Linked DNA regions of Homo sapiens. The protein of the gene in region 4 purifies or fractionates together with the protein of the main gene of each other region. This does not show direct contact. Each region holds a gene or a part of one and is shown on either strand. Other genes may lie near its edges.

The links.
Region 1: the proteins of NELFCD (region 4) and SEM1 purify together in Homo sapiens (co-immunoprecipitation; one large-scale study listed by IntAct). This does not show direct contact.
Region 2: the proteins of NELFCD (region 4) and SPTLC2 purify together in Homo sapiens (affinity purification with mass spectrometry; one large-scale study listed by BioGRID and IntAct). This does not show direct contact.
Region 3: the proteins of NELFCD (region 4) and COPB2 purify together in Homo sapiens (affinity purification with mass spectrometry, with the first as the bait; one large-scale study listed by BioGRID). This does not show direct contact.

Annotation. Positions count from the first base shown.
Region 1 is NC_000007.14:96,700,951-96,709,874, reverse strand, and holds the start of SEM1 (26S proteasome complex subunit SEM1), read left to right. Parts: upstream 1-28; 5' UTR 29-111; coding exon 112-187; intron 188-8,924. UniProt on the Homo sapiens protein: Component of the 26S proteasome, a multiprotein complex involved in the ATP-dependent degradation of ubiquitinated proteins.
Region 2 is NC_000014.9:77,603,573-77,612,496, reverse strand, and holds part of SPTLC2 (serine palmitoyltransferase 2), read left to right. Parts: intron 1-8,924. UniProt on the Homo sapiens protein: Component of the serine palmitoyltransferase multisubunit enzyme (SPT) that catalyzes the initial and rate-limiting step in sphingolipid biosynthesis by condensing L-serine and activated acyl-CoA (most commonly palmitoyl-CoA) to form long-chain bases.
Region 3 is NC_000003.12:139,376,417-139,385,340, reverse strand, and holds part of COPB2 (coatomer subunit beta'), read left to right. Parts: exon of another isoform or gene 1-337; intron 338-1,905; coding exon 1,906-2,043; intron 2,044-5,874; coding exon 5,875-5,961; intron 5,962-6,167; coding exon 6,168-6,294; intron 6,295-7,151; coding exon 7,152-7,300; intron 7,301-8,924. UniProt on the Homo sapiens protein: The coatomer is a cytosolic protein complex that binds to dilysine motifs and reversibly associates with Golgi non-clathrin-coated vesicles, which further mediate biosynthetic protein transport from the ER, via the Golgi up to the trans Golgi network.
Region 4 is NC_000020.11:58,990,579-58,993,900, forward strand, and holds part of NELFCD (negative elongation factor C/D), read left to right. Parts: intron 1-331; coding exon 332-497; intron 498-733; coding exon 734-868; intron 869-1,302; coding exon 1,303-1,442; intron 1,443-2,419; coding exon 2,420-2,534; intron 2,535-2,870; coding exon 2,871-2,966; intron 2,967-3,045; coding exon 3,046-3,186; intron 3,187-3,322. UniProt on the Homo sapiens protein: Essential component of the NELF complex, a complex that negatively regulates the elongation of transcription by RNA polymerase II.

The DNA.
Region 1 (8,924 bases), on a different chromosome or scaffold from region 4:
CTATGGTAGCGTCAGCGTCGGAGGCGGTAGTGACGGTGGCGTTTCCTTGAGGAAGAGTGAGGGTTCCAACTTTTCTGCTTATCTGGGAGGTGTTGGGCGCGGACAGTCGAGATGTCAGAGAAAAAGCAGCCGGTAGACTTAGGTCTGTTAGAGGAAGACGACGAGTTTGAAGAGTTCCCTGCCGAAGGTAACCGCTGGGCCCCGGTTTCTGTGTCGCGCGAACGGTGACTCAGGCCTCCGTGTGGAGGTAGCTTGGGTGCTCGGGCCCAGCTGGGGGCACCGGCGGGAAGTTTGGACTCCCAGGGCCGGCACTCGAGGCGCTAACGCTCACCCCTCAGTGGCGCCCCAGATTCGGGTTTGGGGTGTTGCGCTGGGACTCACTGGTGAGGCCCAATGGCTTCGGCTTCCTCACTGGGAGGAGCCACCGTGAGTCTGGACCCATAGCCCCGCGTCTGTGATGGTTGGTCCATTTACTGTTCACCTGGGTTACTCACCACTTAAACTTAGTTCAAGTCTACATAACCTCCTTTTCTTTTTGTTTTAGCAGTCTTTCTTTGTCTTTAAACCTTTCCAGAATTGAATTGTCAGTAGTTACGCCAATGCTGCTTAACTTTTAGGATGTTACAAATGAAGCCTCATTAAGTAGGATAGGAGGGTAAGATACGGGGTGCTTAATACACATTATTGCCTCATTCCTGTTCCTCACCATTTTGATCACTTAACTGTGACCTAACTTAATGCTTTATAAGACCCTAAAACTTGCCGGGTGTGGTGGCTCACGCCTGTAATCGCAGCAGTTTGGGAGGAAGAGGCAGGAGGATCACATAAGGTCAGGAGTTCAAGACCAGCCTGGGCAACATAGCGAGACCCTGTCCCTACAAAAATAAAATATTTTTTTAAAAGAACCTAAACCTTACACATTTTTTTTTTTAGCTTCAAAACTAAAGACCTGGTTTTTTCATTGTAGATAATAGCAAATTGCTAACATTTATTGAGTGGCTGTTGTTTTCAGGAACTTGTCTAAGTGCTTTACTTGTAATAGCATATTCCACTTTCATAAATATAAGAAGTAGGCCTCAGTATTGCCATTCTTCAGATAAACTGAAGCTCGGAATGGTTAAGAAACCTTCTGATGTCTCATAACTAGTTAGAAATAATAGAACTGGAACTGGGAAACCTGGCCTGATTGACACCAAAGCTCTTAACTTCAGCTGTACTGCTTCTGTTTGTGAGATTGCTGTTGCCAGTTAGGTTTTCAAAATAGGCTGCTTTATTGGCTGATGGTTGATGAGTAGGATTTGTAAATATTTACCTTATAAGAAAAGGAGATTACTTTCTGAAGGTGGTAGAAAGAGAATTGTGGTTAATGGGGTACACATCCTGTTGCATCAAGCAATTACTACTTCACTAAAATTGTCCCAAGTTGTATACCCTATGATGATCCTATTGTGCATAAAACCACATAGCTGGAACATTTGTTCTATTTATAATGTACTGTTACTTTGTTTAGTGGAAGAGAACATTAGTGTACATGCTACAGAAACTGGTAAACTAACCCAAAGCACATTTCTTTTCAGTTCTGGAATTAATTATGTGTTGTAGGCATTCTTAGTTTTTTGTTTTGGTAATGGATTTATCTATTCAGTCATGTTTTCTTTAGCTCGCTTTCAAGTTGCTTCATAATCCGCCAACATAGAGCTGTGTCGTAGAAAGCTGGCCTATTGAAGGTAGGATCTACTTCTTACTCAAACTTAATACTTCAAATAGCATTCTTCATTATCATATACAGGGTGGAATGTTAGGCACTTTATTTGCATTACATAATCTAATTATCACTATCACCTTGAGAATATGGAGGCTTAGAGACAAAAAGAAAAACAAACAAACAAAACTTGCCATTATGTCCAAGCCAGGATCTGAAAGGTCTAACTCCCTGATCCAAACTTTATCTGTAACATTTAGCAAAGTGCCTGATACATAGTAGGTGGTCAATAAATGCATGTTGAATGAATGATGAATGAACCCGCATTTAAAATGAGTAGTTAGTTGATAATTGACTGCTTAAAAACGATCTAGAGATAACTATGTACCTGATGGTACACTTGATTTTTTTCAGCAACTTTCATCAGCTTTTGCGAGTGTAGTTTGTGCTTGTTCTAAGTTTATATGTGAGCAGCAATTTTTCAAAGTGTCAGTAGTTATATAGTAAAACAAAACAAAAAGGTAAAAGGAAAAGCAAAAAAAAATTATTCTTTCTAAGGACAAAAGACTCACAACAGACTTGTTTATTAACATTAAGTAATTGACCATTTATGGGTCTCCTTACAGAATGTTTGTTGTCTTCAGGTATAAATGTGTAGAATTAATTCATTCAGGAAACTTTCCATTTTAGAGTGAGAAACATTTTTAATGCCTTTATTTTGTTCAAGTTTCTCTTCTCTGGTTTATGATTTGGAGAGGTTTTTCTTAATTTGAATTTGTGAGAAAATCATCCCACAAGGTGAAACCACTCAATATTTACTCATGAAAGTTGTTCTGATGAGTAACAAAAGCAAAAGAAAAACACTTCAGAAAATATCACCAAAGAATTATTTCTTTTCTGAGAATCTACATTTCCGACATGTTTTGGTCTAGTCAAGGTTTAGAGTCTGTTACTATTCAAAATGTGATCCATGAAACAGCAGACTTGGCATTGCCTGGGAGCCTGTTAAAATTGCAGCATCTCATCATTCCTCAAACCTAGACCTACTTAATCAGTGTGGGCTTTACCAGGATTCCTAAGAGAGATGTTTGAAAAAACATTAAAGTTTGAAAAGTATTACTTTAAAACAGTGACCTATTTTCAATCTTTTGGTATTTGAGTTTTCACTTCAAGTATTAATGCCCTGATTTACTTTCAAGTTCTTTCTGTACTTTGGAAAATTATTTTTCTTGTAAGTATGCCATTGACAAATTCACTAACAGATACAAATTAAAATTGGTGTTGTTAAGGCAGCCTATGAACATCTCTGCAGTCTATAACAGATCTTACTTTCAAACGCTTTGTTGAGTGTCAGTGCTCCAGAAAGTGGATTTTATCCACTCTCGGGTAACTTGGAGTATAGAGGTTGCCACATGAAAGTCGTTACTGGTGGTTCGACTAATAGATTTTCTTTTGGGAGTGGGTCTTTCTTTTGGGAGTGGCGTTGCTACATCCCATCTTGCATAAGAATATGTTTGGTAGGATGTTCATTTAATCATTTTAAGGAAAGGGAATTTTTATTGTTTCTTCTCTCTCTCTTTTTTTTTTTTTTTTTTTTTTTTTGTTTGTTTGAGATGGAGTTTCACTCTTGTTGCCCAGGCTGGAGTGCAGTGGCGCGATCTCGGCTGACTGCAACCTCCACCTCCTGGGTTCAAGCGATTCTCCTGCCTCAGCCTCCCGTGTAGCTGGGATTACAGGCATGTGCCACCATGCCCGGCTAATTTTGTATTTTTGGTAGAGACAGGGTTTCTCCATGTTGGTCAAGCTGGTCTTGAACTCCCGACCTCAGGTGATCCACCCGCCTCTGCCTCCCAAAGTGCTGGGATTACAGGTGTGAGGCACCATGTCAGCATAGTTTCTTCTCAATAGCCCTTCAATGTAAAGTGCAACATCTGGAAGGAGTCTCTGAAGGTACAAATGCTGCTTTTATTTTTTCCCCCATTCTATAGCCTGTGAATTGGTGCTACATTGGCATTTCCTCACAATTATTCTAATTGGTGGGTGTGTAATCTTCTGGTCATTAAGCAGGAGCTGTAAAAAATCATATTTAGGATCTTTGTGATATACAGCCTCCAACTTCTTGACTACTTAAACTGATTTAGAACAGCCTTTATTAGGAAGACATTCAAGGTCCTGGGTGTGATTGATTTTGATATGATTTTGGAAGCTTTGAAATGGTTAGAATTCTAGGACCGGAGGGCAACTTAAAAGTCTAGAGAAGATTTCATTTTTCAAATCATACGGTCAGGTTGGTGGTGATAGAGTCAAAAACTGAAGTAGTCTATAATTTATTTAAAACTTTTTTTTTTTTTTTGAGACAGAGTCTCGCTCTGTCACCCAGGCTGGAGTGCAGTGGCGCAATCTCGGCTCACTGCAAGCTCCACCTCCTGGGTTCACACCATTCTCCTGCCTCAGCCTCCCTAGTAGCTGGGATTACAGGTGCCCGTCACCACGCCCGGCTAATTTTTTTTGTAGAGATGGGGTTTCATGGTGTTAGCCAGGATGGTCTCGATCTCCTGACCTGGTGATCCGCCCGCCTCGGCCTCCCAAAGTGCTGGGATTACAGGCATGAGCCACCGCGCCCAGCCTAATTTATTTAAAACGTTGACTACTTTTCCATATCAAATTATTGAAAGAGTTTTAAAAAATATTTTTATTAGTTTCTCTGACAATTAGATGTGGATTCGAGTAAAAGAGGGAAGAGAACAAGTGCTCCTTTAGATTCTTTTATTCTCTTCCTGTGCCAGAATTGAAAGGGTTTTTTTTTTTTTTTTGAGAGAGAAGCTTTTTTAGAATATTTAGAATGAAATTGAGTTTGCCTGCAGCAGCAATAGCGTTTACAAGAGTGATATTATACTAAGTATTCTATACTTTTTCTGTATTAGGTGAAATTTCTATATAGTCTGAAGAAATCAGGAGCAGAATACTACCCACCTTCCCACCCTCTGGCCCCTGGAGAAATTTCTGGATAAGACAGTGTTATGATGGGAATCTGTCTGTTGAGGCAGACAACAGACTGGTGATCCCCTAATGCTGCCAGCATTCTGGAATAAATGAGGCATTATCACCTGTGCCTTAAAAAGTATGACATCTTACAGTGGTTCTTAACCAAGGGAGTGTTTTTGGATGTCACACTGACTTGACAGGTAGGAGTGTAGAAAAACTGCCAGCATTTAGTGGGTAGAGGTCAAGGATTTTATATTTGTGCCTGCACGAGGAAGAACTGCCCTGTGAAAAATGCTATTGAGAAATATTTATGTGAACAGCATATACCAACAGGACTAAACATTCAATAGGAGGATTCCTTAGAATCTTAAATGTAGAAGATAGATGTGACCAGTATTGATAATGTCACACACCATGCTAGTCAGTTTACCTAGTGCCAAAAAGGGCTTTTGCTGTTTTTGCATTATTAAATGTAATATAGTGGACATAACCATTAAACATTTGAATTAGTTACATGGTGGTAGCAAGAAATGGAGAACTCATGTTACTAAAAATTTTTAAGAAAAAATGTGTAATCTGTATAATGATTCGAAGAGTACCTGTTGAATGTCCATTTTTGATAATTGTGTGCAAGAAGAAAGTTTTTGAACCCCAGGATAGAATAAGCATGATGAATCTAGGATTAGGCCTAGGTTCAAATCTACCATTCATAAACTTTCAGCTAGTCACCTCATGCTAGTTACTTAACTTCCTCTTTAAAATATTTTTGTAGTATATTATATAGGATAATTGTATAAGTAACCGCTTATGGTAAAAATTTAAACTTAATGAGAGTATAAATTAAAAAGTAAAAACACAGTTTCCCTCTACAATTCCCCAAAAAAGTTATTTATGTCCCAGTGATAACCAACGTTAAATGTTTTTTTCTTTAGTATCCTTCCAGAATGTATTTATAAATTGTACTTGTTTGTATGTATCCTTTAAATACATACACAGAAGACATACGATATATACTATTTCCTCCTACTTGATTTTTATTATTTAATGTATCTCAGGTACATTTTTGCATCAATATAAAAATCTACCTCATGCCCTCATTGTGTTCATCTTAAATAGTCTATTTAACTAGTCCCTTCTTGATAGATATTAGGGTTTTTTCTTTGGTTCTTTTATGTATGTGTGTGTGTGTGTGTGTGTGTGTGTGTGTGTGTGTGTTTTTAAGAGACAAGGTCTTGCTCTGGTGCTCTGTCACCCAGGCTGGAGTACAGTGGCGCTGTCACAGATTATTACGGCCTTGAACTCCTGGGATTGAGTGATCCTCTGTCTCAGCCTCCCTATCAGCCTCCCTAGTAGCTGGGAGTACAGGCATGTGCCATCTCACCTAATTTGTTCTTTCAAATTTTTTGTGGAGATTTGGTCTCGTTATGTTGCCCAGGCTGGTACTGAACTAATGGCCTCAGCAGTCTTCCCATCAGTCTTCCCAGGTGCTGGGATTACAGGTGAGCCACTGCACCTGGCCTTTAAAAGAAAAAAAAAAAATGGAATATGCTGCAGTGAATAACCTTATAGCTTTAGGGTTTTTGTTGCTTGGGTTTTGTTGTTTTTTTTCTGTTACAGATAATGAATATGTTTACATCTTTTTGTGTGTGTGCTAATCTATAAGATAAACTCCTAGAGAAGAATTGCCAAATTGAATTGGCAGACTCATTTTTTATAATATAATTTTTATTTTGAAATAATCTCAAACTTACAGAATAGTTGAAAGTACAGTACAAACATTTTTCTCTAAACCATTTGTGAATAAGTTGCCAACCTGATGGCCATCACTCCTGAGTATTTTAATGTGTATTTCCTACAAGGACATAGTCACAAGACAACCATCAAAATCAGGAAATTAACGCACTGATGCATTACTATAGGTTGAGCATCCCAAATCTGAAATCCTCCGGAATCTCAAACTTTCTGAGTACCAACATGAAATTTCAGATTAGGGGATTTGGGATGCCCAGTTGTAAATATATAATGCAAGTATTTCAAAATTCAAAAAAATACAAAATTTGAAACACTTCTGGTCTCAAGCATTTTGAATAAGGGATACTCAACCTGTATGATCTAACCCACAGATCACTTTCAGCTTTCTCCCATTGTCTCAATAATGTCTTACTATAGAGTCCTGGATTACATTATCTTGTCCTGTCTCTTTAGTCTTCCTTAGTCTAGAGCATTTCCTGTTTGTCTTTAACTTTAATGATTTTCACACTTTAGAAGACTACAGGCCAGATATTTTGTAGAATGTTCCTCACCTGTGCCTATTTCCTCATGATAGAAGTTCTACATTGTAGTCCTGGTGCTCTGTTCTAATGACATCTTTTTAGGTGGAACATTATTCTCATTTGTTCCATTACTGGGGATGTTCACTTCAATCACTATTAAGGTGGTGTTTGTTAGGCCTTTCCATTGTTAGGTTACTAATTTTCCCTTCCTAATAGGCAGTTTTGGGGGAGGGACTTTGAAACTATGTAAATACAGTATTCCAGTGATCATCAAACTTGTAACTTGTTCATCTTTTAAAAAATGTATAGCAGTGTGGACTAGTGGATTCTGACTCAGTAGGTTATAATTTGTAACTATTATTTGGATTCTCAGATTGTCCCATATTTGAACATGCAGAACTCCTTCAGGCTGTCTTCTGTGTCCTTTTGCCATGTCTCCATTATTCTTTGTGCATTTCCTAGCATTCTGGCACAAGGTGTATTCCAAACTAATTTTATATGTGAAATCAGCCGTTGCTCCAATGTGATTTCTTTTTAGTGGAGAATGGTATTTAGAATGCAGGGTCTTCACTTTGCTTATGTTTATTGCATTTGGGATATTCCTGCTCCCAGACCCTCTAAGTGGAAGGAACTAGGGATGTACAGGAGTGTGTGTGTGTGTGTATGTATAAAACCATGGGTTCACACAGATGTCTCCAATTGCAGTTCAACACCACTGGATTCATTCTAGTTTTTTCCCTTTCTACATTTGTTATTCCCTTCTCCAATAGTGAGAAACCTGGCTTCCATTATCTTCAATGTATTGTCTATTTGGTCATCCCCCTTCCTAACCAATCTTTGCTGCCCCCAACAGGTGCCCTTCTTGCCCAACTTGGGCTCCACATTTTATGCCAGGCCACCCTCCCATCCTCTAGTGTGGGTGACTTCGTTCTGTCCAGGCTCTGACACACCAGCCACACCATGCTGCCCCTCTCCAGGAATGCCCTCCTTGCTCTACTTGGGCTTAGACACCTCATCTTAGACCTGGCATATCTTAAATTTTGACAGATACTCTCAAATTGCCTTTGAGAAGGGTTATGCCAATTTATGTTTTCATCTACAGTTCACCTTTTCCCTCATAAGCTTGCTACACTAGATAGTAAACATGTTAGTCATTACTGACCTCATGAATGAAAAATAAAATTGTATCATTTTGATTTGGATTGATTTTTTTAAGTAAGATTAACCATTATGTTTTTCTCTGAGCTGTTACCATCTTAATCCTCAATTTCATTATCTGTAATATATGGCTAATAATATTTATTAGAGTCATGAAAGAATTACATTATTGTAATGGTTGGCCTGGGCTACCATAACAAAATAGCATAGACTGGGTGGCTTAAACATCAGAGATTTATTTTCTCACCCATTCTGGAGGCTGTGGAGTCCAAGATTAAAGTGTAGGTCGATACAGTTCTTGGTGAGGCCACTCTTCCTGCCTTGCACAAGGCTGCCTTTGTGCTGTGTTCTCTTGTGGCAGAATGAAAGAGTGCATGCTCTCTGGTGTCTCTTAAGGCACTAATCCCATCATGGGAGCCCTACCCGCAAGACCTCATTCAATCCTGATTACCTCCCGAATACCATCATATTGAGGATGAGGGCTTCAACATAAGAATTTTTGGGGGGGTTTTGGGGGGCCAGGGTACAAAGATTTAGTCCAGAACAATGATACATATGTAAACAGAGTCTGGCACAAAGTTGGTATTCAGTAAACATTAGTCTCCTTTTTTCTCTCCCCTCTAATGTACTTAGGAGTTTGGATTTTGGATGATGTTTAATATTTATTTAGAATTTGAGCTGTGTCTGACATGTATTTAGTAATTTTGAATATATTCAAAATTAAGCTTGTTAAATTTGTGAATTATTTGATAATTGATTTATTTTGCAGTATTAGAAACTTGTAAATTTAAAAAAATTGCCATTAA
Region 2 (8,924 bases), on a different chromosome or scaffold from region 4:
ATTTTCATTTCAGTTTTCACTCTAAGGGGAAGCATATCTTGATTCTTACATAGCTGCATCTGAAGAATTCCAGAGTTATTTGAGATACTCAGGAATTTTCTTTAACAGGAATTCTTGGGAAATGTGTAAGCAGCTATGTTCTTAAGATAGTATTTTAGAACTAGGATGTTCAGAAAAGTCAGACTTGCCCACTTTTTAGGGTTTGCCCATGTGCCATAGAAATTTGCACCGCTTTGAGCAAGACAGTTAATTGGTTGATTTAATTAGATTCAGTTTTTGGAAGAAAGAAGCAGTGTTTATTGGTAGAATAGGCAATTCAGAGGGATGGGTAGAGGCACTGTTTGCATTCTGAGTGGGTGTGCCATACTTGATTAAATAAATGGTTTGTGGACTCAAAGTCAGTTCCCTTCTGGGTAGTTTCTGAGAAGCTTCTGTAATATAATTCACAATTTGTGACCGATAAAAAAGTAAGTCCTTTGCTCTTGACCCATTTACTGTTAGAAAATTTATCTTAAGTTTGTCTTTAAGACTACTTTTTATTGCAAAGCTTGAGGCAGCTATTCTTCCTTTTTTAAAAAAATAATTTTTACTTCTCATTATAGAAATAATACATGTTTAATGTGGGATCATAAAACATTGAGATAATCTCTGCGTTAGGTTTTTTTTTTTTTGAGACGGAGTCTCACTCTGTCGCCCAGGCTGGAGTGCAGTGGCGCCATCTCAGTTCACTGCAGCCTCCACCTCCCGGGTTCAAGCGATTCTCCAGCCTCAGCCTCCTGAGTAGCTGGGATTACAGGCATGCGCCACCACGCCTGGCTGATTTTTGCATTTGTAGTAGAGACAAGGTTTCACAGTGTTGGCCAGGCTGGTCTCGAACTCCTGACCTCAGGTGATCCACCTGCCTCCGCCTCCCAAAGTGCTGGGATTACAGGCGTGAGCCACCACGCCTAGCCGGAGGTTTGTTTTTTAATGTGGTCTATTGTAAATCCATCTGCTACTTTCCGTTAATTTCTTTTCTTTCTTTTTTTTTTTTTTTTTGGCGAGATAGGGTCTCGCTCCAGCCTGGCCTGCAGTAGCACAGTCATAGCTTACTGCGGCCTCAACTTCTCGGGCTCAAGCGATCCTCCCATCTCAGCCTCCCAAGTAGCTGGGTCCACAGGTGTGCACCACTACAGTGGGCTAATTTTTTTTTTTGAGACAGAGTCTTGCTCTGTCACCCAGGCTGGAGTGCAGTGGCGCGATCTTGGCTCACTGCAAGCTCTACTTCCCAGGTTCACACCATTCTCCTGCCTCAGCCTCCCGAGTAGCTGGGACTACAGGTGCTCACCAACACACCCGGCTAATTTTTTTTTTTTTTTTGTATTTTTAGTAGAGACAGGGTTTCCCCATGTTAGCCAGGATGGTCTCGCTCTCCTGACCTTGTAATCCGCCTGCCTCAGTCTCCCAAAGTGCTGGAATTACAGGCTTGAGCCACCATGCCTGGCCTTTTTTTTTTTTTTTTTTTGTAGAGATGGGTCTTACTATGTTCCCCAGGCTAGTCTCTTTTTTACTTAAACAAACAAACAAAAATAAATAAAAATATATATATATAAAGAGAGAGGGAGACAGAGAGAGAGGGAGACAGAGTCTCACTATGTTGCCCAGGCTGATCTCAAACTGTTGGGTACAATCGATCCTCCTGCCTTGGCCTCCTGAAGTGCTGAGATTATAGGTGTGAGCCACCGCACCCAGCCACCCAGGCTGGTCTCAGACTCCTGACCACAAGCATCCTCCTGCTTCAGCCTACCAAAGTGCTGGGATTACAGCCACTGTAGCAGACTATTTTGTGATAATTTCTAAGTACAGTGAAATATGCGGTTGTACTGATACTATGGGTGTGATCCAGTCTTACTCCAAAAAATAGGTATTAAGGGCTGGGCACAGTGGCTCATACCTGTAATCCCAGCACTAAGGGAAGCCAAGGTGTAAGGATTGCTTGAGCCCAGGAGTTCAAGATCAGCCTGGGCAACGTGGCGAGACCCCATCTCTATTTAATTAAAAAATAATAAGGTATATGACCAGGTACCGTGGCTCACGCCTGTAATCCCAGCACTTTGGGAAGCCGAGATGGGCGGATCACTTGAGGTCAGGAGTTTGAGACCAGCCTGGCCAACATGGTGAAACCCCGTCTCTACTAAAAATGTAAAAATTAGCCGGGTGTGGTGGTGTGTGCCTATAATCCCAGCTACTCTGGGAGTCTGAGGTAGTAGAATCGCTTGAACCCAGGAGGTGGAAGTTGCAGTGAGCCAAGATGGTGCCACTGCACTTCAGCTTGGGCGACAGTGAGACTCTGTCTCAACAAAACAAAACAAAACAAAACCTCAGTTAGATACCATTTCACACCACTAGGATTGCTAAAATAATAAACCAGGTATTAAGTGTTCATGAGGATATAGAGAAATTAGAATCCTGATACATTGCTGGTGGGATTATAAAATGATGCAGCCACTTTAGGAAACAGTTAAACATAGAGTTAGCATGTGGCCCAGTAATTCTACTCCCAAGAAAAATGAAACATATGTTCCTGCAGAAACTTGTATATTAATTATAATAGCAGCATTGTTGATTGATTGATTGATTGATTCAGGGTGTTACTGTTACCCAGGCTGGCAGGACATGGCTCACCGCAGCCTCCACCTCCTGGGCTCAATCAATCCTCCCACCTCAGCCTCCCAAGTATCTGGGACTGCAGGCATATGCCACCATGAGTGGCAAAATTTTTTTTTTTTTGAGACAGAGTCTCACTCCGTTGCCCAGGCTGGGGTGCAGTGTGGCTCACTGCAACCTCCACCCCACTGGTTCAAGCAGTTCTCCTGCCTCCGCCTTCCGAGTAGCTGGGACTACAGGCACATGCCACCACGCCCAGCTAATTTTTTATATTTTTAGTAGAGATGGGGTTTCACCATGTTGGTCAGGCTGGTCTCAGACTCCTGACCTAAGTGATCCATCCGCTTCGGACTTCCAAAGTGCTGGAATTACAGGCGTGAACCACTGTGTCTAGCCCCACGTTATTTATAATAGCCAAAAAGTAGAAACAATCCAAATGTCTATCAACTGATGAGTAGATAAAATATGGTATATCCATATAAAAGGATATTATTCAGCAATACTACTGAAGGAATGCAGTACTAATACATGCAGGAGAATACTACATTGTTTATGGCCATGTGTTTATATAGTGAAAGTATTTAAAAATACAGGGGAATGATAAACACCAAATTCCCAATTCTTCTGAGGAGGAAAGGAAATATAGCATTTCCCCAGGACAGACTTCTTAAAAGGATTGGAGAACTACTTAAACATGTCAGATCTTGACACTGTCCTGATGGCCTCCTGTCACTAATAACAGAATACAAAATGGGGTTTACAAGGCCCACCATGAACTTTCCCATCCCTCTCTGACTTCATATCCTGCCAGGTCACTGCTTTCTAGCCAATCCGGGCTTTCTGATGTTCCCCAAACACATTGCCATCAAGCACCCCTCCCTGGGGCCTTATTATTATTATTATTATTATTATTATTATTATTATTATTATTTTGAGATGGAGCCTCAATCTGTCACCCAGGCTGGAGTGCAGTGATGTGATCTCGGCTCACTGCAACCTCCGCCTCCAAGTTCAAATGATTCTCCTGTCTCAGCCTCCCAAAGTGCTGGAATTACAGGCGTGACCTACCACGCCTGGGGTCCCTGGGGCTTTAGCCTTTACAGTTACCTCAGCCTGGAAAGCTTTTTCACAGAGTTCTCTTCCCTACTCCAAGTCCATCTGCTTACACCTTACCTCCACCCTGTTTAAAATGCTCTTTTTCCACGATTTTATTCTGATTGTAGCAGTGTGATCTGATACAGTATATCTATTTGCTTATCTGTTGTCTGCCTCTCTCACAGGAGTGTATTTCTAGTGCTCAGATCATGCCTAGCTCATAGCAGGGACTCAATAAGTATTGAATGAATAACTTTAATGTTTTATTTAATGGAAAAAAGATCTAAAGCATATAAGCTAAATCTTAAGTTTTGATAAAGCTAGATGTTGAATACAGTTTTATTTCTATTTTTTTGATGATAATTACTGTGTCATATTTCATACATACTCTGCTGGTTGACAAAAACTAGCTCCCTAAAATAATGTTACAGACATAAGTAAGAAATGGATTGTGGTGACACATAAGCTGTTAAAGAAACCCGTAGCCTAATTTATAGTGTATCAGGTTTGCAAGTGGTTTAAAACAATAGCGGTTTACTGAATGTTCTTACTAGCGTGAGGGGAGAGCTTGTGAGAAGTAGGAAGAGGCCAGAGAAGGTCCTGGGGTCTGGCACACTCTGATATGCTTCATCACCTCTCCCTAAGCTCTCCCTACAGGGCAGTGGGGCCAGTGGTGACTTTTGCGGCACCCTCTCCATTGTCTTACCAAGGGCTTCAGCTGTGAGACGCCGGTTGGTGCTACAAGGAAGGGGAAACGTGTCAGCTCTTTCCTCTGCTCTTTTCTCACATTGATTTCAAATGCCAAGAAGCTGGGCTGAGAAACCGGGCTTGTGATCCTGGTTGTACTGCAGTCCACCATGTGCTGGAGAGCTCTGCAGGTTGTGCTAAAGGGTAGTGTCTTTATTGCCTCCTGTATAAGCTTGACTTTTACATAGGCAAGCAGGTTATTTCCAGGACAACTAAATTAGTTGGTGCGAAACCTCATTTCCTAGAAACCCATTTTCTTAGTAGAGGAAACCCATATAACCATTTGTCTCCATGTAAGTGTAGCTAATAACATGAATAACAAAAATAGCTAATTATTTAAATAGCAAAAATAAGTATGGAAGATGAATTTGCAGTAAAATTCTAATATTAAGCCACTGATTATTTTAAAACAATCAGATTAAGTTGTAGTACCTCTGAAATAATTAAAGGAAAATTTGATTCTTAGAAAATCTCAATTCATTGGAAAGCCATGGAATTAATAAAATAAAAAAAGAAAATCTCAGGCAATATAAACTAAGGAATGGCAAATGGAAAATGTATTGATTGGTGGAAAAGTAATTGCGGTTTTTGACATTGAAAGTAATTACTTTTGCCATTACTTTTAATGGCGGAAACCATTTAATGGCAATTACTTTTGCACCAACCTATAAATAATTGGACTCTAGTTCCAACTTTGATATTTAGCTTTCCCATGACTGTTGACAAATTGCTTAATCTACTTTCCTTGATTTTGTCAGTCAAATGAGGAGGAAGAGACAGCTTGAGAAACATTTGTAAGAGAAATGCTTATTACTTTGTATGTGTTTTTCGTCTTACATATTAAATATAAATTCCTTTAGGTGATATTCTTTAAAATGATTTCCTTACTTCCTTTTATATTTACATCCATTTTCTCTTAAAAAAACAAACAAACAAAATACTGCACAATTCTTGAAGACAAGGATTACCTCTTACCTCTTATTTGTTTCATGAAATATAGAGTACAATTTTTTTTTTTTTTGAGATGGGTCTTGTTCTATCACCCAGGCTGGAGTGCAGTGGCGCCATCATGGCTCACTGCAGCTTCAACCTTCTGGGCTCAGGAGATCCTCCTATCTCAGCCTCCCCAGTAGCTGGGACTACATTCATGCACCACCACATCCGGCTAACTTTTGAAAATGTTGTGTAGAGATAGGGTTTCACTATGTTGTCCAGGCTGGTTTTAAACTCCTGGGTCCAAGCAATCCTCCCGCCTTGGCCTCCCAAAGTGTTGGGATTACAGGCGTGAGCTCCTGTGCCCAGCCTAGAGTACAGTTCTTGACATATAGATAGAAATTAAGTATTTGTAGAATGAGTGGAAAAAAAAATGAAATGATTATGTTGATTTTGAGTTTCTCGGTGGAATAGGGCTTTGGATTCCTAGAAGAGACTTTAATGTTGAAAAATTATTTTTGTAGTTTTGAAAATGTTAAAAAATTGAACATGAGAAATCTCCACTTCTCTGGGCATGTGAAATTAAAGGGAGGGATGATCAAGTTGTGAGAGATTCCCTAGGCCAGCAGTGCTGATGCAAGAAGGTGAACATGTAGACTGCTGTATTCTGTACACACACACACACACACACACACACACACAGTCCCCTCCCTCCTGGGAAAGCAAAAGTTGTTGTTGTTTTTTGAGACAGAGTCTCGCTCTGTTGCCCAGGCTGGAGTGCAGTGGCACGCGGTTTTGGCTCACTGCAACCTTTGCCTCCTGGGTTCAAGCGGCTCTCCTGCCTCAGCCTCCCCAGTAGCTGGGATTATGGGCGTGCGCCACCATGCCTGGCAAATTTTTGTATTTTCAGTAGAGAGAGGGTTTCACCATGTTGGTCAGGCTGGTCTCGAAGTCCTGACCTCATGATCAGCCTGCCTCGGCCTCCCAAAATGCTGGAACTACAGACGTGAGCCACTGCGCCAGGCAGCAGAAGTTTTTGACGATTTCTAGACAATGTGTGTAAAGACCTTTAGAGTCTAAAGTTAATGTTTGCATTTTGCAGTCTTAGGCAGATACAATGAGGTATAAAACACCTCTATCCAAACAACTGAGTTGGACTGGGCTGAAGATTTAAGTCCTTCAGTTCGGTGTAGTATCCCAAGAGTGGGATCCGTTGTATGTTTGTTACAGGCCACTCCCTCTAGCTTTATCTGCTAAGCACTGTGAGATTGTGCTTAATTTCACTTTGGTTTTCTAGTTCAGGCCTCCAGCCTGGAGGTGAATGTCCTGTGTAGAAAACTGGCCATAAATTTAGGGCTGTTATGAAATTTAGTCTGTCATGCCAACCCATATAGCTGTCATAAGTTCTGCTGGTTTTTCTTTCTCTTGATGGAGTTCTGCCTATGGCAAGCCCCAGTTATCATCACTCACGCTAAAGCTCTACAAGTACCACAAGTAGAGAGAGGAAATGGCTGGCACTTTCAGCTCACCTAGAGAGGCCTCTTCTCCCTCTGGAATTTTAATTCTGCTAGTCCTCTTTGCTATGCATAGAAGACAGCTCTTCAATCTTTAAAGCCATTTATTTATTTGAATAATCTATTTAGTTTTATCTAGTTGTTACTGTGAAAGCACTAGCTTGCCTCTCTCTATTAAAGCTAACCTGGAAGTCTCATTATTTTTTGAATTTTTGTTGCCACAAACATGACATAAGAATAAGTTTGTTCTGGGCCAGGCATGGTGGCTTATGCCTGCAATTCCAGCACTTTGGAAGGCCAAACTGGGAGGATTCCTTGAGGCCAGGAGTTCAAGACCAGCCTGGGCAACATAGGGAAACCTCATCTAAAAAAAAAAAAAAATTAACCAGGTATGGTGGCGGGCACTTGTATAGTCTCAGCTACTCTGGAGGCTGAAGTGAGAGGATTACATGAGCCCAGGAGTTTGAGGTTACAGTGAGCTATGGTTACGCCACTCTACTCCAGCTTGGGCAGCAACAGAGTGAGACCCTGTCTCTTTAAAATAAATAAATAGGCCAAATGTTTAAAGTAGAAAGTCAAAGTGGCCAGCCATTCCACTACAAGATAACCAGTGTTTTCAGTTTGATTTATAGCTTTCCAGATTAGCATGTGTGTGCATGACTTTGTCATTTTACCTTTTTTTTTTTTTTTTTTTTGAGAAAGAGTCTTGCTTTTTTGCCCAGGCCGGAATGTGGTTGCAGGATCTTGACTCACCGCAACCTCCGCCTCCCAGGTTCAAGCAATTCTCCTGCCTCAGCCTCCCGAGTAGCTGGGATTACAGGCATGCACCACCACGCCCGGCTAATTTTGTATTTTTAGTAGAAATGGGGTTTCTCCATGTTGGTCAGGCTGGTCTCAAACTCCTGACCTCAGGTGATCCGCCCGCCTTGGCCTCCCAAAGTGCTAGTATTACAGGTGTGAGCCACCGCATCTGGCCGGGAAATATTTTTTAAAAATTTCTTGAAGCCCTTAAAGTTTACAGGCTCTGCTAACATGATAAATACCCAATAAAAATATAGAAAAGAAATTCTAAGAGATTTTAATATAGAATCATTATCTGTTAACTGTTTTAGTTGAGAGCAACAGAAACTGAGTCTGGTTAAACTAAGCAAAGAGTGATTTATTGGAAGGATGATAGGTATACAAAAATGGGATGGGGGATGAAATTGAACAAGTCTCAGAAAGGCAGGAATTGGCACAGCTCTTGGGACCTCAGTGGCAGGAGTTTGTGAACCCTTTCTTCAGGACATTGGAGACCCACTGCCCTTCAGACTCTCTCCCCATTGACATTTTAAATCCCCATAAAAGAGGGTTGTTGGATTTCTTTCGGCAGAGGTGTCTGTGCTGCATCAATCAGTTATGGTCCAGGAAATATAGTCACAACAAAGCATACACGTGACCACCAGGGGCGCATCCCTGCATATCAGGGAGTATTCCCAGAGAAGGGAAGTTGACACAAACCGGATTGCCTCTCCAGTGGTGTGCACCACAAAACCAGACTGGAGCACGTGGTGGGGGCAGAGTGGAGGGAATGGTATTACAGGCTCAGAACGTGTCAGCAGTGGAGGAGAACTCAGATGAAGATGCAGAATTTGTGGCAGAGCTGCACTTGTACTCCAGTCTTCAGGCTCTTGCATCTCTTACACCGTGATGCTTATCTAGAGATGGAAAAGTGTTACAGCGGAGGCTTGGGTGGCCAGTGTGATAACTCCTGGGCAGACATCAGTGCCCAGTGTGTACAGGATGCCACTGAACTGAAATGGAAATGTTCCACTCCATATATGCTTGAAGATCTCCTTTTGGGGGTTTTCAATAGCAAAATGGTAATGTCAAAATATAAATGTGTTTCACAGCTAGTTTTGGAAACATTTTTCATTCCATTCCACATGAGATACTTACTGACAAAAACTAAGGAATTTATGCTGCCTACACGAAAAACTATGGACTTCT
Region 3 (8,924 bases), on a different chromosome or scaffold from region 4:
CATTGGCCGGGTGCGGGGGTTCACGCCTGTAATCCTAGCACTTTGGGAGGCCGAGGCGGGCGGATCACAAGGTCAGGAGATCGAAACCATCCTGGCTAACACGGTGAAACCCTGTCTCTACTGAAAATACAAAAAATTAGCTGGGCATGGTAGCATGCGCCTGTAGTCCCAGCTACTTGGGAGGCTGAGGCAGGAGAATCGCTTGAACCCGGGAAGCAGAGGTTTCAGTGAGCAGAGATCAGCGCCACTGCACTCCAGCCTGGACGACAGAGCGAGACTTCGCCACTGCACTCCAGCCTGGACGACAGAGCGAGACTTCGTCTCAAAAAGAAAAAAAGTAAATTTATTTACTAGATAATTCTATGAACTAGAGGTTCTCAAAATGTGGTCTGCGATTCCTTAAGAGTCCCTAAAACTCTTTCAGGAGGTCCACAAATTAAAATTATTTTCTTAACAGTGAGACGCTATTGGCACCTTTCACAATGTTGATATTTGCACTGATGGTGTAAAAGTAGTGGAAGGTAAAACTGCTAGTGAAGTGACACCAAATTGTACTGTTAGTATATTCTTCATTGTGACAGTTTTTTAAAAAGTCATTTTCACTTAAGAATGTCATTGATGAAACAGTAAAAATGTTATTACCTCTCCACACTTGAGTATGCATCTTTTAAATTCTGTGTGGTGAAATGGGGAGTATGCATAAAGCAGTTCTACTGCATACCGAAGTATCGTAGTTGTCTCAAGGGGAAACACTTGTAGCGTTTTTAAGTTGTGAGCTTTACTTGAAACAATGACTGAGAAACTCTGCTTATTCAGACTTGAATATTTGGTCGACATTTTTTAAAAACCTGAAAGAGGTTGGCTGGTCCCTGACAGTATTTCTTGCCAATGATAAAATTAAAGCTTTCAAGTGAAAGTTCGAATTTTGAAAAACTCACTGAACTTGATGGATTTCCAATGCTTAAAGGCTTATCAGTTGAAGTAGGTGGTGAAATTAGTGAATGTGTAATTTTTTTAATACAGTATCATGATGTTGTTAGCATCTAGAAGATGTGCATAATTCAGTGGACCAGCATTTTCCAAACGACCAATGCTTAATGGTAGAAAAACATGCATGAGAGAAAGATCCATTCAAAGTATGGACTTAACCAATGGATTTTAATGTAACGAAGTATAAACAGCTTATTGATACGGTTTCAGATTTTACCTTGCAAGTAGCCTTTAAGAAACTACCACTTCTCGAATTTCGAAGAATTTCAAGTAATGAAAAAACTATTAAGATACTCCTCACTTTCCAACTAGGTATCTGTGAGACCAGGCATTATTTTGTAGACATTAACCAAAACAACATATCACAACATATTGAAGGCAGAAGCAGATAATGAGAAACCATCTGTCTTCTGTTAAGTCAGATTATAAAGAGTTCTGCAAAAATGTAAAATATTGCCACTCTTTTCACTAAATTTTTTGAAAACATAGTTATTTTTCATAAAAACATGTTATTTTAATTAACATGTACTGGATTTATTTTTGTTATTTGAAAATGAATTAATATATAAATATTTTAAAGTTGTCTCAGGTTTAATTTTTAACATGGTAACATGCCAATAGCTAAAACTCACATAAACAAAAGCTCTTAGGGGTCCTCAAAGTGTTTAAGGACTATAAAGGAATCCTTAGAGCAAAAAGCTTGAAGACCACTGCTGTAAATCTTAAAATGTTGAATATTCTGATTTTTTTGATGTGTAAATGAAGAAATAAGTGCTTAGACTTGAAACTGTTTCAAAAGCTTAGCAAAGTAGTAGCTGAATTGTTTTGTAGGCCTATTCATGCACTTATTTAGTTAAAATCTCAAACATATTTTATTTGGCTTAGCAATTTAATTTTTTTAATGTTTCTTTTTAGCCTCTGCGACTTGATATCAAAAGAAAGCTAACTGCTAGATCTGATCGAGTTAAGAGTGTGGATCTGCATCCTACAGAGCCATGGATGTTGGCAAGTCTTTACAATGGCAGTGTGTGTGTTTGGAATCATGAAACACAGGTAGGAATTTTTCAGGACTGTATTAGAAATAAAATACTATGTGAGACTGTGTTTATAATGAAAGAGAAGAAATATTATAACAGAATCCAGAATCTATATGCAAACTGCTTTCTCAAGTTGGTACAAAGTATTTTAAATATGAAGGAACTAACATTTATGAGGGGATAGTTTGTAGGAGAAACTGTCCTGGGTATGTTATATACAATATTTAAATATAACAACTCTGACTTAGGTAGTATTAGCTCTTTTTTGAAATTGAGAAAACTGATGGTATTATAGAATCACTTGCTAAAGTATTTAATCGTTAGTTTTCCATTCAGTGAATACTCTATCTTAAGAATGATATCGTTAAATTTATTTTTCTCCCAGATGCCCAATATAATGATACACAGATAAATCTTTCACTCAGCCATATAGATTATATCAGGGAAATATTTATAGTCAGCTTTTGATTATACACACATCTTACAGATTGTCTGCCTGAATGCTTGACTCATTCTCTTTCACCTGAGTAAATAACATATCCTTCAAATTAGTTTGTCTCATATTTTCCAGTCTTCCTAGACTGTATTTAAGAGTACAAAGCATATAGTTAGCACTATACTATACAGTTGTGTCTACTTATATAGTAATTATCCTTAACGTCCAAAGTTAAGTTCTTGAAATCCAGGTAAAATTCGCATTTGAGGAATTTAAAATGGCAAAATGACATCAAGGAACCAAAGCCAGAAGTAAACCTAAAAACACCTTTATACTTTTATACTCACTGTAATGAAACAGAAATGACTGTACACTAAACTCATACCCTGTATTAGTCTGTTCTCACACTGCTGTAAAGAACTACCTGAGACTGGGTAATTTATGAAGGAAAGAGGTTTAATTGACTCACAGTTCCACAGGCTTAACAGGAAGCATGACTGGGAGGCCTCAGGAAACTTAAAATTTTGGCAGCAGGTGAAGGGGAAGCAAGCACCTTCTTCACATGATGGCAGGAGAGAGAGAGCAAAGTGGGAAGTGCCACACACTTTTAAACCATCAGATCTCATGAGAAGTCACTATCACGAGAACGGCAAGGGGGAAATCCACCCCCATGATCCAATCACCTCCCACCAGGGTCCTCCTCCAATTTGACATGAGATTTGGGTGGGGATACAAATCCAAACCATATCATAGTCCATCAGTGACATTTTATATAAATTAACATTTTGTTTTCTGCTGTATCTCAGTACCTATAACATTACCTGGCACATAGTAAATGCTCAATAATTATTTGTTCAACCAATGAATAATATGCATTTCACTTATCACTAGTTCAGTATTTGTGTTCTCTACAATTTCAGATCTTTATCTTGTGAATTGTTTTTGCTTTGATGCAAATAACTTTTTTTTTTTGCTTTTTGTTTAGTTCTTGAGATGTTTAAAATATTTCTGATTTTATGTTTAACAGATACGTTGGTGTCCTCTCTCTCTGATTATTCCTAGGGATTCCCTCTTATCAGCTACATTTACCTATCTCAGCTCTATCACTTGATCATCGTATGTTCTAAAGCCCAGGCGTACTTTTCTTATCTTTCTCTAGGCTTTATTGTAATATATCTCTGCTTTATCTGCATTTCCACTTTGCCTCCTTTTTCTCTTCTATACCTTTTTCTGCCCTATGACAGGACCATCTGCTTCCCCTTTCATAATTCATCTCAGTGGTAATTTCATGTTTAATTTCCTTCTTTCCTCTAAGAATGGAGGTTCTGTGAGGACAAGGATTACCCTCATCTTATTTCCCACTGTTGGTCCAGTGCATGAGGCACTACCTGATACACTGTCAGGCTCCTGGTAGATAGTAAGTCTTTGTTGAATGATTAATCTGTCTTTGATTCTCCCTGTTTTTTCCCTGTGTTTATATCACCAACAGCATTTACCACTCCTATATTGAGAGCAAATTCTTGAGAGAGCCAAAAAGGTTTTTGGAAGTAAAAAGGTTTTTAGATGTACTTGAATTTCAAATAAGGAGATGCTATATATTCTTTGAGGTGGTACATGCAGTGGTTTAAAAAACATAGTATTTTAGGATTTGAAGCCAACTTGCTGATTAAATTATATAGGCAAGCCTTTTAACCATGCTGAGCCTCTTTATTTATCTGAAGTGAAGATGATATTATTGCCTTGCCTACATCACAGGATTGTCAAAAAGATAAAATAAAATTAGATAAAATTGTGTATGAAACCTATAAAGTACCATATAAGTATTAGTCATTAGTTATACTTTCCTAATCTACGTTGAGTATTTGTATGTATTGTGTGTGTAGCTTTTCTTACTCTTTATTTGCATCAGTCATAGCCCCTAACATGGCGTTGAACCTTGGCTATTTCTTCTGCAGCTGCTTTATTTTTACTGCTCAGCAGATCCCTGGATTTGTTGGCTCCTCATGAGCTTTTGTGGATTTTTCTGCCGTGTTATAGATCGCATGTTGTGTCTACTCTCAGTTTCTGTATCATAGTCAGCTGGTAGTGATTCTACAGGTTAGAGTTGAAGTGCCTACTCATTCAGCCTTTGTCTAAAGAATCTTTGAACTCTGGCTTGAAAAGTCAGAGTAGGACAGTTCTTATGAACCGGTCCCTATTACTTTTTTAGTGCACATGGTTAATCAATCAGTAAGATTATATTGTGTTTCTTAGTTATTTCATTTTTGCTCTCTGATACAAAAAAGGATTAGAAAATGATAGTTTGACTTTCAGACTTTTAAGAACAGGCATCAAAGAAGGAGAACAAAGAGGTACCATGATCTCTGCTCTTTCTAGGAGGGTCTCTACCTTTATCCTATGTGTATAATTCCATTCTGAGCAGCTCGGAGGAACATATAAGTCACGGTGTTTTCATATTTTATTAAAAAGAAATAATAACATTTGTATGGAATCATATTGCTAAAGCATGCAAAAGAATTGTACCTTATTCATGAGTCACTTTTATGGGTTTCAATTTCAAAAAGACTGACTAGGTGCAGTGGCTCACGCCTGTAATCCCAGCACTTGGGAGGCTGAGACGGGTGGATCACTTGAGGCCAGGAGTTCGAGACTACCCTGGCCAACATGGTGAAACCCCGTCTGTACGAAAAATACAAAAATTTGCTTGGCATGGTGGTGCACACCTGTAATCCCAGCTACTTGGGTAACTGAAGCATGAGAATCACTTGAACCTGGGAGGCGGAGGTCGCAGTGAGCCAAGATTGTGCCACTGTACTGCACTTCAGCCTGGGTGACAGAGTAAGACTGTCTCAAAAAAAAAAAAAAAAAAAAAAAGAAAAGAAAAAAAGAAACTAAGAGCTAATTCATTCAACAAATATTTATTACACACTACTTGTGTGCCAGCCACTGTTCTATCCTCTGCCTATACAGTGTGAAAAATATTCCTGCCTTTGGAGAGCTTAGCAGGAAAGATTGGCACTAAACATAATTATGAGGTGCTACATTATGAAAGGGAAGTACAAGTTTCCATGGGTGGATTTTCAAGTCAGAGACAACAAGAGCAGAGGTGAGGCTGGGAGTAGCCAAAGGTGAGGCTGGAAAAGGGAGGGAAGGGCTGGAGCACAGAGGATCTGGAATACCATCTTGTGGATATTTGCCTTCTCTTATCTTTTAAAAAGTGTTTTAATTTCGAATCTATTAAAAGATAGTTGGTCTTTTTTAAAAATTTGAATGTTGAGCTTTTATATTTTAGCCTGAGAATATACTAAAATGAGAAGTGATCTTAAAAATTGGATGTTTGAAATATAACAGAGTAGATTTTGTGGTTATTTTCTTATAGCTCAATTTGTGTATTCTTGTTACATTTTAAAGACACTGGTGAAGACATTTGAAGTATGTGATCTTCCTGTTCGAGCTGCAAAGTTTGTTGCAAGGAAGAATTGGGTTGTGACAGGAGCGGTAAGTAATTAATATGAATCTCTATTCCCATTTTCTGAATTGGTCAATGATTGTGTAAATTTGTTGCAGGATTTTGATTCCCGATTTGTTTTGTTATTTACAGCAATGTTTTGAGGCATAGACTTTATTCCTTGAGCCTGTGATATAGTTTTTTTGTATAATTTACTTGATAACAGGGATGATGGTTTTAAAATTTCTGTTTCTAGGATGACATGCAGATTAGAGTGTTCAATTACAATACTCTGGAGAGAGTTCATATGTTTGAAGCACACTCAGACTACATTCGCTGTATTGCTGTTCATCCAACCCAGCCTTTCATTCTAACTAGCAGTGGTAAGAGATGACCTTTTTTGGTCATGTGCGTCTCTTTGGGTAATTCATTTTCATTCACTGAGACATGCTATGCTTTAACTGCTGTTACAAATATAATTCTAATTCCAAGCGGCCTTTAAACTATTTAGATCCATTACTGTGCTATTGATGCTGCTTGTGTTTGTACTATAATGAAATATCAACTGTACTTAGGATTTGTGTAATGATTGCTCCAGTTCCTGTCAGAGAAGACCTACAAGTCTAGATGTTTAAACATCTGCTGAACAGAAAGGTCATTTACATGTTGATGAGTGAGTTTTTGGCAGATTGCCATAGACCCTATTCAGTTCAATCTTTATATTCAAACTAGTTTGCTCCTTGGTATTGTGTATAAATAGTAGACCTCTTGGAGGACTGGAAAAAGAGGTAGCACTGAATTAGTAATAGCTCTTTGAAATGTTTTTAAATTAAAAATTGAGAAGTAATTAAAAACTTTTTAAAAACCAATCTTGTGAGGGCAAATGCTTGTTCTCTACATAGTCATTGCTATCACTATTCAGTCATGCTTAGATCTAGTCAAACTTATATTACTCTTTGGCCATTCTTTAATGCCCACTGAATTTTTAAGTTTTTTCACAGAATTTTTATATTTTCTATTTCTAATCTATTTTATTTATTTTATCTCCACTTTTCTGTAGAGAGTTAAATTTATTTTTAAGATAAATAAGCATTTTGAAAACTCTATTTGGTTTTGATTCTATTTCTGTAAGTCATGGATTATATGGTTTGTGTTAGGTTTGCTTCTTCTAAAGACTGTGTCTTAGTTATGAAGTGAAAAAATAGAATTACAACTAACTTGAGACTTTCTTTTGGCCTAGATGACATGCTTATTAAGCTCTGGGACTGGGATAAAAAATGGTCTTGCTCACAAGTGTTTGAAGGACACACCCATTATGTTATGCAGATTGTGATCAACCCCAAAGATAACAATCAGTTTGCCAGTGCCTCTTTGGACAGGACTATCAAGGTAGGGCATCCACATTTTGTGTCAGTTATCATTATTAGTGAACTATACTTGCCTTAGGTGTTTTACTGTTGACTGGTCAGAAATGTACCCATCTTAAAAATTTTCCTCAAAAGCCTGTTTTGAAGTCAAAATAGGATTTCTCATTTTAATCCAAACGACATGTTCTGTTTAGAAAAATATTGTGGCAACTCAGTGCTCTTAATGAGGAGCGTTTTTCTGTGTGGAGGCAGCATGTTATAAAAATTTTTTAGCCTTTGGAAACCCAGAATAAGAAAAATGCCAATATCTTTTTAGGATACTACTGTCCTCTCCTTTTAGTATTCATTGTTGACTTCTGCTCATCGTTTATCTATTTTACATTTAAATTCCATATGCCTCTATTCTCTCTTTCTTACTCCATTTTACCACACTGCTGTCTGTTATCTTTCTGAAACAGTTCCTGATCTAAGGATAAAGTCCAAATGCCTTAGTGTGGAATACAAGGATTTCCAGGACTAGCCTGGGCTAATATTATGCGACATCTCCTAAAACCCTGGTCTACTCACCATCCTCTAGAGAGGCTATGAATGTTCACAAAACCTTACTTCATTGAACTGTTCCATCTTCCTGCACTTCTCTTTATTTTCCTATTTTGATATATTTTCCTCCGGAGAATTACTCAGCTTTTAAGGTTTAGCACAAATATTTACTCTTGAGAACCTCTTGTCAGACATCAACTTCACCTCTAGACAGAGCCAGTTATGCTTATCCCATTTCTTCCATTGCTTTTTGCCTCTGTTTCAGCCTTTCTCAGATTGAATTATTATTACACGTTTTTGGAAATCTTTATCCCCTGAAATACTGGATTTGGGGGATAGAAACTGTGTCACTCCCTTTCCCCAGCCATTCAATAGCAAACAGCAAAGTGCCTTACCTGACCTAGATGCTTAATACATGTTGCAGTGAGGGCAATCATGCTTCTTTTTTTTATCATAATATTTAAAATATTTCCATGCCAGGCACGGTGGCTCACGCCTGTAATCCCAGCACTTTGGGAGACCGAGGCAGGTGGATCACAAGGTCAGGAGATCGAGACCATCCTGGCTAACACGGTGAAACCCCGTCTCTACTAAAAATACAAAAAATTAGCTGGGTGTGGTGGCAGGCGCCTGTAGCCCCATCTACTCGGGAGGCTGAGGCAGGAGAATGGCATGAACCTGGGAGGCAGAGCTTGCAGTGAGCCGAGATTGCGCCACTGCGCTCCAACTTGGGGGACAGAGCGAGACTCCATCTCAAATAAATAAATAAATTAATTAATTAATTAAAATATTTCCATATGCATTGACTTAAAATAAATTAACTTTTGCTTACATGTTTGCTTTCACCTATATAAAACACTGTTAGTAGTTTTCCTTTATGTAAAATGTTATGTGTCTGAATATCTTAGGGTTTTAACCTTAGCTATTTTGCCTTTGATTGGATTATCCTTGCTTTTGACATAGATTAACTTTGAAATTAGTTGTAAACTTTTATTTTTACTAATTTAGGTTTATCTTGAGAACAATAATTGTCTTATCTTCAGTTCCAATAAAGTTTATTTTATACAGTAATTGATAAACATTTGTTACACGTTTATACTCCCCAC
Region 4 (3,322 bases):
TTCTGAAGTAACAAACAAAGTCAGTCCAGAAATAGTTGCTCAGCAATCTCATTGTTACAGTGTCGCAAAATGAGCTCATATTAGCTTTATTTTCTGCTACCAATAGAGTGTTCCTAAGTATTTAAAGTGTGTGACTCCTTTCTTATAGAGCCAGCAAGCTGTATTGGAATCACTTTTCCAGTGTTGTAAATGTTATTTTTGTGGGTCAGTCAGTATACTCGTGAATGACAGAAAAACAGATCCCAACAATGCAAAGTATTATATGTGTAAAAAAGAACAGAAAAAAGAAGCTGCCTTGTTAGTAACGGGGTCTATGGTTTTTCTCATCAAGAGGTCATGACGCCAGTCAGATCACACTAGCCTTGGGCACAGCTGCCTCCTACCCCAGGGCCTGCCAGGCTCTCGGGGCCATGCTGTCCAAAGGAGCCCTGAACCCTGCTGACATCACCGTCCTGTTCAAGATGTTCACAAGCATGGACCCTCCTCCGGTTGAACTTGTAAGTTGCTTCTCAAGAATCCCCAATGTCAGCTGGTAAGGTGACTTTGGAAAGTCTGTGCTTGTCTGATTGTCTGAAGGCTGTGAATGCAAATCCATCATTGTCCTGGTCCTTCCTCAGTCACACTCTCTGCCTGGAGCCTGTTGGGCCCCTGCTGTGTAGGGAACCCTGAGGGGAGGTGGGTGAGCAGTGCCCTCACGCCTGCCATCCCGAACTGGGCATATGCTTCTCCTCAGATCCGCGTTCCAGCCTTCCTGGACCTGTTCATGCAGTCACTCTTTAAACCAGGGGCTCGGATCAACCAGGACCACAAGCACAAATACATCCACATCTTGGCGTACGCAGCAAGCGTGGTTGAGACCTGGAAGAAGGTACCATCGGTTCTGGGAATTTGTGGATTTTTTAGGAGACAAATATCCTCCTCTGCTTTGATATTATTTTGGAATTTTGGCTGCAAGAAATCTTGACCCTCCCTAGTATCAGGCATGTGTTTTCTTGTGTTTCTGCGTAGAGAAAGCACTAAACGTCTCCAGAAAATGTGCGTAATGTCTCCAATGCTCTGCAAACCGTAAATTGAAATGTGACTAAAGAAATGAAACTGATTTCCGTAAGACATGGACAAACACTAGTCTCATTGCTTTTCAGTTTCTGTACACTGTGTGACTGTGAAGTTTGACAGCTGAATTGACTCCCAACTTAAGTAGAAATAGGGAAAGTGCTTTGCAAGAAGTGGCCGACACCAGAACACCCCGACAGCAGGGATATCTGCCCTGTCAGGCTCACCAGCTTGTGTGTGTGTTTTCAGAACAAGCGAGTGAGCATCAATAAAGATGAGCTGAAGTCAACGTCAAAAGCTGTCGAAACCGTTCACAATTTGTGTTGCAACGAGAACAAAGGGGCCTCTGAACTAGTGGCAGAATTGAGCACACTTTATCAGTGTATTAGGTAAGCAAAACGAAACTCAGTTCTTAAATCAGTCCTTTGGGGAGGAGGTCGTTTGAGTTTTCATATTGAAAGCTCAAATAACAAAAGCTTCAGCGATACTTGTTCATTTTATTTATTTTTTCATTTTTAAACAGTATGTAGGGAACTTTAAACAGCTTTAGCAGCATGAGTAATTTTCAGATGTTTATTTGCCAGAAGTCTGTTGAGTACAAATTAGGCTAAGTAAAAGATAGCCAGAGTTAACAAAAATTGATTTGAAGGGTCTATTTATAGGTAAAGTTATGCCCACAAAGTATTGCTTACATAGAAATGATTTGTGATTATGCCAATCATATAAATAGACGTGTCCTAGAAATAGTGTGTCCTCTTAGGCATGTCTTTCCCCTAATAATTTATACTAGGGATGAAGAAAGAGTTTGCTAAATAAAGGTAAACTTCAACCCAGTCCACCAAACTCACTGAGTATCACTCATTAATGATCTTTTCCTTTCGATAAGTGGTTTAAAGTGAGCAGAGAATTGAACTCTGCTTCTTGCACCGCATGTTGAGTGGCTGCTGATCCATTCACACTATTTACTAATAAGCAGAGCTTACGCCAGGCACAGTGGCTCTGGCCTGGAATCCCAGCAATCTGGGAGGCCAAGGCAAGAAAATAGTTTGAGCCCAGGAGTTTGAGACCAGTCTGAGCAACATGGTGGACCCTCTCTCTACAAAAAATTAGCTAGACATGGTGGCACTCACCTGTAGTCCCAGGTACTCGGGAGGCTGCAGTGAGCCATGATTGTGTCATTGTACTCCAGCCTGGAAGACAGAGTGAGACCCTGTCTCAAAAAAAAAAAAAAAAAAGGGTTGGGGGGCGTATTGAAGGGTGAATGATGGAGTCATTTGAGTTTGTTTTTAACTTTCCTTTAATGCTTTTCTAGCATATTTTGTGTTTTAAATTGTTTTTTAAAGGAAGCATTCTGCCTTAACTGTAGGTTTCCAGTGGTAGCAATGGGTGTGCTGAAGTGGGTGGATTGGACTGTATCAGAACCAAGGTACTTTCAGCTGCAGACTGACCATACCCCTGTCCACCTGGCGTTGCTGGATGAGGTAAGAGGGCGGAGAGCTGTTCACAGCCTACACAGTGTCTGTCTCATGCTGTTTACGTTGGCATTAACATTGCATCTATTCAGTGAGTTTAGAGGATACTCTTCTCAAAAATAGTTATTTCTGTCCTGAGGATTTTCCTCTTAAGGACCTAGCTTCATTGACTGCAGAAATTTCTTAACCTCAGTCAAGTGTTACTGGAAGCTGATGGCCCTGGCTTAGGTGTCAGGACCTTCTTCCACAGTGATAAGCTCTTTGGTGGCTGTGACAGTGCCCAGTTTCTCTGTGTGCTGAGCGTGACCACACTGCTCAGCGAAGCTCCCTCTGGCCTGTTTGTAGATCAGCACCTGCCACCAGCTCCTGCACCCCCAGGTCCTGCAGCTGCTTGTTAAGCTTTTTGAGACTGAGCACTCCCAGCTGGACGTGATGGAGCAGGTGAGCAGTGCCCGTGGGGCTTGCCAGAGGGCTGAGGAGGACCCTCTCTAACCAGCTCCCTGTCCCCCTTCTTCTGTAGCTTGAGTTGAAGAAGACACTGCTGGACAGGATGGTTCACCTGCTGAGTCGAGGTTATGTACTTCCTGTTGTCAGTTACATCCGAAAGTGTCTGGAGAAGCTGGACACTGACATTTCACTCATTCGCTATTTTGTCACTGAGGTCAGCAATGCACCGTTGGTTTCATGTTTCATACTGTTTACACTAGCACTGCCCTTTTTGGCTTAATTTAGTTCATTTTGTACCTAACTGAGAACTGTGCTTTCTGATGTAGTGATGACAATGACAGATACTCGTT